Linked DNA regions of Homo sapiens: region 1 is linked to region 2. The links come from fine-mapping of genetic effects on gene expression. A gene starts in region 2. The other region holds a variant in brackets. All regions are shown on one strand. Distances are between the middles of the regions. Region 1 overlaps CROT (carnitine O-octanoyltransferase). Region 2 holds the start of DMTF1 (cyclin D binding myb like transcription factor 1).

What was found. PIP is the estimated chance that this variant, and not a neighbour inherited with it, causes the effect. A credible set is the group of variants that fine-mapping cannot tell apart.
Region 1: its variant is the best candidate, but not a certain one, in a credible set for the expression of DMTF1 in whole blood (INTERVAL, PIP 0.65).

Annotation. Positions count from the first base shown.
Region 1 is chr7:87,382,098-87,387,489 of GRCh38, reverse strand. It overlaps CROT (carnitine O-octanoyltransferase), which reads right to left. Exons shown (of 18, transcript NM_021151.4): 12 at 5,309-5,392; 13 at 4,947-5,077. It also overlaps a transcript of ABCB4 not described here. Among named protein-coding and RNA genes, the nearest start is that of CROT, 39 kb to the right of the region's middle. The variant C/T (reference allele first, on the strand shown) is at 3,200.
Region 2 is chr7:87,149,723-87,155,114 of GRCh38, reverse strand. DMTF1 (cyclin D binding myb like transcription factor 1) reads right to left here and starts at 2,662. Exons shown (of 18, transcript NM_001142327.2): 1 at 2,560-2,662. It overlaps DMTF1-AS1 (DMTF1 antisense RNA 1), which reads left to right and starts at 2,622. Exons shown (of 2, transcript NR_136253.1): 1 at 2,622-2,813; 2 at 3,457-3,692. RefSeq lists enhancers at 2,467-3,028, 2,874-3,113, 3,029-3,592.

The DNA.
Region 1 (5,392 bases), 230 kb before region 2:
GAAGGGTCAACTGTACAAAAAAAAAAAGTATAGCTCATGTTGGAAATAAAATGAAGCAATTTTTTTAAAGCTCTAAAAATTCAAAAGAAAAAGAAAAAAGTACAGATGGGATAACTAGAAAATAAAGAGCAAGATGGTAGACTTAAACACAAATTTACTGATAATTATACTGAATTTAATTATCTAAATAACATATTTAAAGACAGATATTCTCAGACTAGATAAAAAAGCAAAACTGAGAGGAGTCATGTTACCATAATGGCAGAGTAGAAGCAATCTGGCTTCACTCTTCCCCACAGAAAACCAAAACAACTATCTAGTACCAATTATCCTCAGGAGTATCCCAGAAACCAAAATGGAGGCTGTGATGATCCCAGGGGCCAGAGAGAAGCAAAAAACTTCAAGCAGAAGGTAAGAGAAACAGACCACTCTATCCACAACACCCCGCCCTCAAGCTGCCAGGCCGCATGTGGAAAAACTCCCATGGACTCACAATACTACACTGAAAGAAGTGAGATCAAGGCAGACAGACACCCTTATCTCCATGCTGGGTTCCTTCACAGAAAAATCATTCCTGCTTCAACCTAAGGGAAGCATCTTTGCCTATAGGGTAAAAAAATCCTAAAGGCAGCCAGAGACAATGGGTAGAGATGGGGTTAGCAATCCCCAATGAACAAAACTCAGTGATCACTCTTCATCTCAGCCAAAAAAGACACCAAATCAAAGAGGTTGTTCAGCAGTGTTACGGTGTAGGAAGCACGCTCCATGAGTCCATGAGGCTATAAAGCCCTAGCCAGCCTTCCCACACAGCCAGGGTATCCTTTCGTTGCAGACACTCCAAGTCCACAACAGTAAGCAATCTGAACTTTTACAAGAGCTCCAAAAGTCAATTTTTTGACAAGATAAACAATATTGACAAATCTGTAGGTAGAATAAGGAAAAAGGAAAAGACTCAAATAAATAAATTCAGAGATGAAAGGAGATATGGTAACCAATACCACAGAAATATAAAGGATCATTAGACACTATTATGAGTAACTATATGCCAACAAATTGGAAAACCTAGAAGGAATGGATAAATTCCTGGACACATACAACCTGAGATTGAAACATAAAGACATAGAAAACCCAAACAGACCAATAACAAGTAATATGATTGAAGCAATAAAAAGTCTCCCATTAAGCAAAAGCTTAGGACCTGATGGCTTCACTGCTGAATTCTAATAAACCTTTAAAAAAAGAACTAATACCAATTATACTCAAACTATTCCAAAAAATTGAAGAGGGCAGAATATTTTCAATCTCATTCTATGAAGACAGCATTATCCTAATACCAAAACCAGAAAAGGACACAACTAAAGAAGTAAACTACAGAGCAGTATCCCAGATGAACACAGATGCAGAAATCCTCAACAAAATACTAGCAAACTGAACTCAACAGCACATTAAAAAGATCACTCACCATGATTAAGTGGGATTCAGATGGTTCAACATATGCAAATTAATAAGCATGATATATCACATCAACAGAATAAAGGACAAAAACCCTATAATCATTTCAATAGATGCTGAAAAGCATTTGATAAAATTAAACATACCTTCATGATAAAAAAAATTTTCAACAAACTCAGTAAAGAAGAAATATACATCAAAACAATAAAAGCCACATATGACAAATCCAGAGCTAACATCATACTGAACATGGAAAAATTGCAAGACTTTCCTCTAAGATCTAGAACATGACAAAGATGCCTACTTTCACCACTTTTATGCAACATAGTATTGGAAGTCCTAGCCAAAGCAATTAGAAAAGAGAATGAAATAAAGAGCACTCAAATTGCAAAGGAAAAAGTCAAATTGTCCTGTCTGCAGATGACATGATCTAATACTTAAGACACCAACAAACAGCCATTAGAGTGATAAACAAATTCAGTAAAGTTGCAAGATATAAAATCAACATATTAAAATCAGTAGCATTTCTATATGCAAAAAGCAAACAATCTGAAAAACAAATCAAGAAAGCAATCCCATTTACAATAGCTACAAAGAATATAAAATACCTAGGAATCAACTGAACCAAAAAAGTAAAAAAATCAATACAAGGAAGACTATAAGACACTGATGAAAGTGAGAGAACACCAAAAAATGGAAAGACAACCTATGTTCATTAATTAGAAGAATTAATATTGTTAAAATGTCCATCCTACCCAAAGCAATCTACATATTCAATGCAATTCCTATCAAAATACCAACAATATTCTTCACAAAAATAGGAAAAAAAAATCCAAAAATTCATATGGAACCACAAAAGACCCAGAATAGCCAATGCAATACCAGGGGAAAAAAAAAAAAGCTTGAGGTATCACATTACCAAACTTCAAAATATACCGCCAAACTATAGTAACCAAAACAGCATGTTACTGGCATAAAAACAGACATACAGACCAATGGAACAGAATAGAGAACCCAGAAATAAATCCGTGTATTTACAGGCATCTCCTTTTCAGCAAAGGAAAGGACAGGCTCTTCAATAAATGGCTCCATGAAAACTGGATATCCATATGCAGAAGAATGAAACTGGACCACTATCTCTTACCGTGTACAAAATTCAAATCAAAATGGATTAAAGGCTTAAATATAAGACCTGAAACTATAAAACTACTAAAAGAAAACATTGAGGATGCTCTGTAAGACACTGAACTGGGCAAATATTTCTTGAGTAATACCCTACAAGTATGGAAGCCAAAGCAGAAATGGACGAATGGGATCATATGAAGTTAAAAAGCTTCTGCACTGCAGAGGAAACAATCAGCAGCCCACAGAATGGGAGAAAATATCTGCAAACTATCCATCTCCCAAGAAATTAATAATCAGAATATATAAGGAACTTAAAAAACTCAATAGCAACACACAAATTTATCTGATCTAAAATGGACAAATAATCTTTTTTGTTGTTGTTAGACAGTGTCTTGCTCTGTCGCCCAGGCTGGAGTGCAGTGGCACGATCTCAGCTCACTGCAACCTCTGCCTCCCAGGTTCAAGGGATTCTCGTGCCTCAGCCTCCTGAGTAGGTAGAGGTACAGATATGTGCCCCTACATCAGGCTAATTTTTGTATTTTTAGTAGAGACAGGGTTTCGCTATGTTGGCCAGGCTGGTCTCAAACTCCTGACCTCAGGTGATCTGCCCACCTCGGCCTCC[C/T]AAATTGCTGGGACTACAGGTGTGAGCCATGCGCCCAGTGACAAATGATCTTAATAGACATTTCTCAAAAGAAGACATACAAACAGCCAACAAGTATATGAAAAATGCTCAACATCACTAATCATCGGGAAATGCAAATTAAAACTACAATGAGACATCACCTCACCCTAGTTAAAAATCACTTTTATCAAAAAGATAGGCAATAACAGATGCTAGCAAAGATGTGGAGAAAAGGGAACCCTCATACATTGTTGGTGGAAATGTAAATTAGTACAGCCACTATGGCGAACAGTCTGAAAGTGCCTCACAAAACTAAAAAAAAAAGAACTACCCTACAATCTGATGATCCCACTGCTAGGTATATATCCAAGAGAAAGGAAATCAATATATCAAAGAGATAGCCACACTCCAATGTTTATTGCAGCACTATTCACAATAGTCAAGATATAGAATCAACCTAAGTGTCCAGCAGATGTATGGATAAAGAAAATGTGGGCCGGGCGTGGTGGCTCACACCTCTAATCCCAGCACTTTGGGAGGCCAAGGCACGCAGATCACCTGAGCTCAGGAGTTAGAGACCAGCCTGGCCAACACGACGAAACCCCATCTCTACTAAAACTATAAAAATTAGCCAGGCATGGTGGCAGGCACCTGTAATCCCAGCTACTCAGGAGGCTGAGGCAGGGAGAATTGCTTGAACCCAGGAGGTAGAGGTTGCAGGGAACCAAGACCATGCCACTGCACTCCAACCTGGGCGACAGAGCAAGACTCTGACTCAAAAAAAAAAAAAAAAGTGATATACATACACAATGGAATATTACTCAGCCAAAATAAAAAAACAAAGAATGAAATCCCTTCATTTGCAGCAACATGGGTAAGGCTGGATAACTTTTTGTTAAGTGAAATAATCCAGAAATAGAAAGACAAATACTGCAGGTTCTCACCTATATATGGGAGTTAAAAAAAATTGATCTCGTGGAAGTAGACAGTAAAATGGTGGTTAACAGAGATTGGGATGAGTAGGGGGGAGAGGAGATTGAAGAGAAGTTAGCTAATGGGTATAATGGTACAGTTAGATGGAATAACTTCTAGTGTTCGATAGCACAGTAGGTTGACTATAGTTAACAATAATTTGTTGTATATTTCAAAATACCAAGAAGAGAAGACTTGGAACATTCCCCACACGAAGACGTAATAAATGGTTGAGGCAGTGGACATCCCAATTACCGTGATTTGACCATTACACATTTTATGCATGTATCAAAAAAATCACATGTACCTGATAAATATGTTCAATTATAACTTATTTATCAATGAAAAAGCAACATTGAGGGACTTCTACTTCTTCTTAGGATGTATTAAGTCACAAAATTAATGTCGCTCCTATTCTAAAAATGAGTAAAGGCTGGATAATTTATAAAATCACAACTTTTCATGAACCCATCAGAAAACTGACGTTGCAAGAAAACCAAGCGATCTGAATGCCAAAGATGACCAATCCTCTTTCAGATGAGAATAGACACGTCAAAAGTTATCAAGTGGATACTGTGATAAAGTAACAAGGAAAAACTGTGAAACCACCACAGATCAGAAATCTAATACTCTATTGATGGAAGTACAAATAGGACACAGTACCAGCTGGGAAAAAAGTGAGCAAAAATACTGAGGAGTTAGGATGAAATAGCTATAAAAAAAGATATACCCTTGGACTTCAAGACTGTGAAAATAGAAACTGAATGGTCCTTACTGTCCATGAAGTCTGTAATAGGCCAGCTGAAGTGCAAGCTGAATAAACGTATCCGGGTGAAGCATCTTGTTCTTGGTTAGCTTTTTGCCAAAAGATGTAAAGGCATAAGCCGCAATCTGTAGATCAGATGCCTAACAAGAAGAATTAAATGAGAACGGTGAAAAATCACCTAAGGAGAATACACCAAAGAGAAGCAAATTATCACCTGCATTAAAGTAATCACCAGACATAAAGAATTAAAGGTGTTAAAGGCATAATTTTAAAATGTTTTGTGCAGACATGCTTGGATGACAGCCAAATTTTTACATATGGTTGTTAAAAGAAAAAATCATTATTATTTAAGAGAAAAGTGAAAAATATACCTCCCTGAGATACTGGGCTTTAGCTTGGTTGATGTCATTTAAAACTTTCTCATCCACAATGAAAATGAGCTCTTCTGGAAGTGG
Region 2 (5,392 bases):
GAATACTTGTTTCACATTATCCCATTCATCCTCACAGGTGTTAATTTAAGCCAATGCACTTAATGAAGCATGGCAAAGGCAACTGTTTAAAATAATGAGATGTTATTTTCAGGACATGTAAGTTTATTACACCATTAATAAAAATTAGAGTCTGTAGATTTTGGAGAGATAAATGAGGCTAATAGAAAGGTAAGATTTTTTGCGGAGGAGGTAAAGGCAAGTTTTTTGTTGTTATTTAAATACTAACCAGTGATATCAAACTAACCTTATAAAATACATACACTATCTCCCCACCTTTAAAGCACCCCTGGGGTGTAATGAGATAACTAAAGGATTGAAAAAAGAGATCTCTAAAAAAAGGACTAGAGGACAGCTATCTACTTTTGATATGAGTCTCCACCAGTAAACATTTCCCAACCATGCTGTTTTCAAAGCTCAAGTCATAACGCCCAAACTTTGATTTCTTCCCCTCAAAATACTTCTAAAACCTGAACACTCAGAAAAATGTTTACATAAAATAATGTATTCATATAACTGCAACGTATGAACTTAAAGTTCTAAGAAAGATGCAATGCCCAGTACTTACTGATTAAATGTTGATGAAGACAGGGCAATAGCATTTTGGCTCCACCATTAGCTCAACTGCAACCAATTAAAGAGATTCACGCAGAATATGCAGGTGCTAAATCAGTCCCCAAAAGCATATTTTGGGGTGAGCCTATCAACTAAAATAGTAAGAAAAAAAATTAGCTTGTTTGGTGGCATACAGAAGCACCTAGTATCGAGAGTTAAAATGAGATAAAAATCACCACAATCATGAAATGTATTTTTCACACCTGTAACATAATGGTTTTTTCCAGATACAATCAGGCTGGTTTTTGTGCTTTCTGTATGGAAGAAAAAAATTATTCTCACACCAAATTGGATTCTCTCAGCATGACAATTTTTGTAACGTTAAGGAATGTAGCTTTAACCTTTTTTCTCTAAATCTTAACAGAATTTCTAAATCCTAACCAAATACATGAAATCCTGTCTCTAAGTACACCATAAGAGCAAAAAGATAAGATTTTGGTGTATCGCCATAGTCATTCTTTAAATGTTAAAGTGATGGCAAATTATTCAAGTTATTAAAAGACAGTAATCCTCAGAAAGCTATTTGAAATATAATTTCAAAACCAGCTTAAAGAAATTTGAAGTAATGAAAAAACATGAAAACCCTTAACTGAAAAAAACAGATTTTGCAATACTTTCAACATAGTGGAAGAATATTTTCGTATTTGGAGCTTAAAAGCTACAAATGGTTTTCTCCCACGAATTAAAAATACAGGTATAATTTAAAATTTTCCAAATGGCGTCACTTTAAGCTTAAGACATGTCATATTAAAAAATAATTCCACAGAATATGCATTTTGTAGGACGTCCCAACATGCAGCCTCGACTGTCAGAAAGGAGGCACACATAATCAAATCCATGTACATTAAAAAGAGGTACACAAAGATGAATGAGTTGCGAAAAAAGCAACTACACAAATTCAATGAGAGAAAGGGAGGAGTCCTGACTCATACTGTATACTATTATCCTTTTCCTTATCTACACCGAGTATTTTATATAAAGACATATGCTCTATCATTCAATTGCACAAAAGGGCACTTGGCCACTTCTACTCTCAAATCTGCTCTGGAGATTGTGGTAAAACATTCTACATACCTCCCTGAAGAAATTCTCAAAGCGAAGTACATTTTAGAGAACAAAGTGGACTTAACAATTTTAAGAACTTTCTCGGAACTCGGCACAATAGGGTAATTACAACTTTACAGCCGCATTTTCCGTGCTCCACCAGGACTGTCCCCGCGCCCCAGCCCACATCCCTTCTTTAAAGAGAGTCAGACTGAGAGAGACGGTTCGGCCAGCTATCCCGATTCTCTATGTCTGGGCCGTGAATCGCCGAGCAAGGCTGAACCCCCGCAAAATTACAGAAGAATCTAAAGCGCAAACGAGGGAAAAGAACAAAAAAGCAAAGGGGGGGAAGTTGGGTCGAGACCCACCCCCACTCTCTCGACCCCACCCAAGCCTACCTCTCCTACGCTGGACCATAAAACAAAACCGAAAACGTAACAAAAATAAAAACTAAAAATAGAACACCACGAGAAAACAAGTAGGGCTTCCTTACTGTCTCCACTCCTTCTGGCCCAGTTCTCTACTCAACCTCCCGGCCCACCCCACCCCCCAGGGGTCCCGGCGCCATTTAGCTCCTCCGAAGCCGCCGCCATTTTCCGCCCCCGCCGGATCGCCGCTGTGCCTCGGCAGCCGCTCGCTTCCCTACTCTGCAGCCTGAGCCACGGGCACCGCCCGGCCCTAAGAGGGAGGCCCTGGCCGGAACGTGCGGGGACGGCAGCTGCAACGTCAGGAAGGCCAGGCTCCGACCCCGCCCGCAGTGCCCCGGCGCCGACAGCTTGCGCCAGCCGGCGGGAGCTAGCGGGCAGCAAGGGGGCCGGACAGGCTCCACTGGGCGGAGCGGCCCTGGCGGCGGTTGGAACCTGAAGGTTCCATCGCACTTACTTCCTGTTTTGGGTCCGGGCACTTTGGAAGAACCAGGATGGAAGCTCCAAAAAATACCAGGATGGAGGAAGCAGCCACGGGCGAGAGTGGCTGCAGCTGGAGTGAGCGAGCGCGACGAGCCACCGGAAACGGAGCTGCGGCCGCGCCCCGCCCCCAGCTCCCCGCACGCTGCCCCTCCCGCTCGTCTGTCCCGCTGGCGGCCCAGCGTGCTGGCTGTACGCGTCACTTCCGGCTGTGTCGGCGCGCGAAAAAAGGTCCTGGGTTGGAATGTTTGTACTGGTCTGTGGCGGTGGTTGTCGGCTGTCCTGCCAGGAAAACTCGGCACTGACTATCCCACTGCTGATGCTGTAAAAGAGGTCCTTCTGCTATGACGCAACTGTGGTTCCTCTGGTTCTGGGGACACTTAGGCCTCGCGTGCCGATTTTCATAGTTCCCTGTGGCTCCGAGCCGAGGGAGCCGCGGTGTGGAACGGAGGGAACCAGTGATCTCAGTGCTGAAGAAAACAGGGAGTGTGTGTCTTCATACTTGATTTGCCTTACCGCAGGGGCATAATATGAGATATCTGGGCGTGTTAAGTCGTTCTTGATGAAATGTGTCCTCTGTGAATGTAGTCTCACTGTTAGACTAGGAAGATGCTGTTTTGCTGTGCCCAGTTCCTCTTAAAAGTACAGATGCTCCTTGGGTTGCAGCCGTATAAACCCATCCTAAATAGAAAACGCGTTTTAATACCCTTATAAACGAAAAGGATAAATAAGCCTTTGGGTTCTGTAATGTGAGCCAGCATTCTTTGAGTGCGTATGTGACAGGTAAATGTTTTACGTATATTAAACTCATTTAATGTTCATAAGTTCTAAGTGCATCGCTACAATTATTACAAATGAATCCCATTTTACACAGGAACCAAAGAGAAGTGAAGGAATGTGTCCAAGGGCTCCCAAGTTGGCGGTGGAATTAGAATTGAAGCCTCAGCTCCAAAGCCTGTGTTCTGAACTACCCGGTTGCAGTTCACAAAATACACTTTGGCAGTACTTTCATAACGAAAACAAATGATTACAACCAGTTTACAAATGCTTTGCTTTACTGGAGGATCGACATGTTTGACTAATTTTCAAAAATAAATCTCAGAAGCAGCATTTTCTTGTGTTGATAACTTTATTACTAATTTGTGGCACTCTGCATTCTGTTGGAGTTAAGCCGTGTATCATTCCATTTTTTAATAAGTACATAATAATGTTTATGTAAGCAAAACTATGAGGCAGAATAGTATCGTGGTATGGACTCAGGCAGTCAGACCTGAGTGTGAATCTTGGCTCCATTTCTTAGTAGTGGATATGGCACTTCACCTCTTTTAGCTTTGTTTACTTTAGGAGTAATAAGATGTACCTTCCAGAATATTGTAGACAGCGTAGTTTGCATGGAATCTGACGTGTATTAAGCATTAAAAATGGTAACTAATAAACCTTAAAGCCAGGAAAGCAATACAACTACTCAAAGAGCAGTTCTAATAAAATAATAATTACATATGCAAAATTGTTGACATTAACATTGATAAGGTGGTTCCTAATGAGCCATATTTTTCATAAGACATAACCATATAGGATTATTTTTGCTAAGGCACAAAATAGTGATATATAAATTATAGTCGGGCTATCCATTCTCCTCTGCTAAATTTTAGGTCAGCCTGCACGCTGCTAACTCCCCGCAAAAAGTCAAGTGCATCCTCATAACTAAATTCTCCCTTTCTGGTTGAGTTTCTTTTATAACTACCTTTTCCCAAGTCAATTGGTATTTATTTGGGGATGACAAATGTATTTTAATATTAGCTTAATGCATAATTTAAAAAAATATAATAACGTCTCTATCCCTTTAGCTTGAATAATCAATGTAAAGACTATCCATAACACAACTTGATTCCTAGAGCAATTTTCTGCAGTTATACTTCTATGTTATCCGTACCTCATTATTTAGTCAATGTGTACCTAGGGAATGGATGAGGTTTTAAATATTATCCAAGGATTTACCTATTTAGGAATTAAATGTTTTGTAGAAAAATCATTAGAAGTATTTCTATCCTAAACAATAATTATTAAAGTATTTATAGCTTAGCTATGGTATTTACTGCATTTGCTAGTTAAAATTGACTTTGTTGGACTCCAGGTGTCTATAACACTTTTGTGAACCTCATCAGTGATTGATGATGAAATTGCCTTTTATGACAGGTTGATATATTAATATAAAGTATTTCAAATACTGAGAAGCAGGTTCTGTTGTTTCATGATCATCTTTTGCTAATTCAGAAAAAAAAAAGATGTTTATAAGCTTTTGTTCAAAGTAAAAGAAAATTACAATTACTGAGTAATTTTCTTTCTACACAGGCTCTGAGTCCTGTTAATATAGCTGATGGGTATACACTGTAGGGCCTTCCAGCTGATGGAGATTGCTGTGCTAATGGAGGAATGAATAAACTGTCCCAGTTATGCCCACACACCAGGCTTTACCAGGTGGTCTCCTGTCTCAGATTCTTCCTGTAGGCTTCCCTCTGGGCCTTATGACACTCCATCTTACAATCCTTTTCCCGCCTTGCATTTTGCCTATGTGTCTCATCTCTGCAATCCTTTTAATACCTCAGCCTGGTGACAACCTCTCTATATCCACTTCACTTTTTTCTTCTTTTGTGGTAAATCTTTGTTGAGACCTATTGATAGAATATTAGCCAGAAAAGTGTTTCCTTATCAAGGGAATGGAGAGCTAAGGCGTCCAATACTCCTAGCCAATAAGGATAAAAATTTTTGTTCTGTCTTTGTAATTTTGGTGTGCAAAACAAAACAGTTCA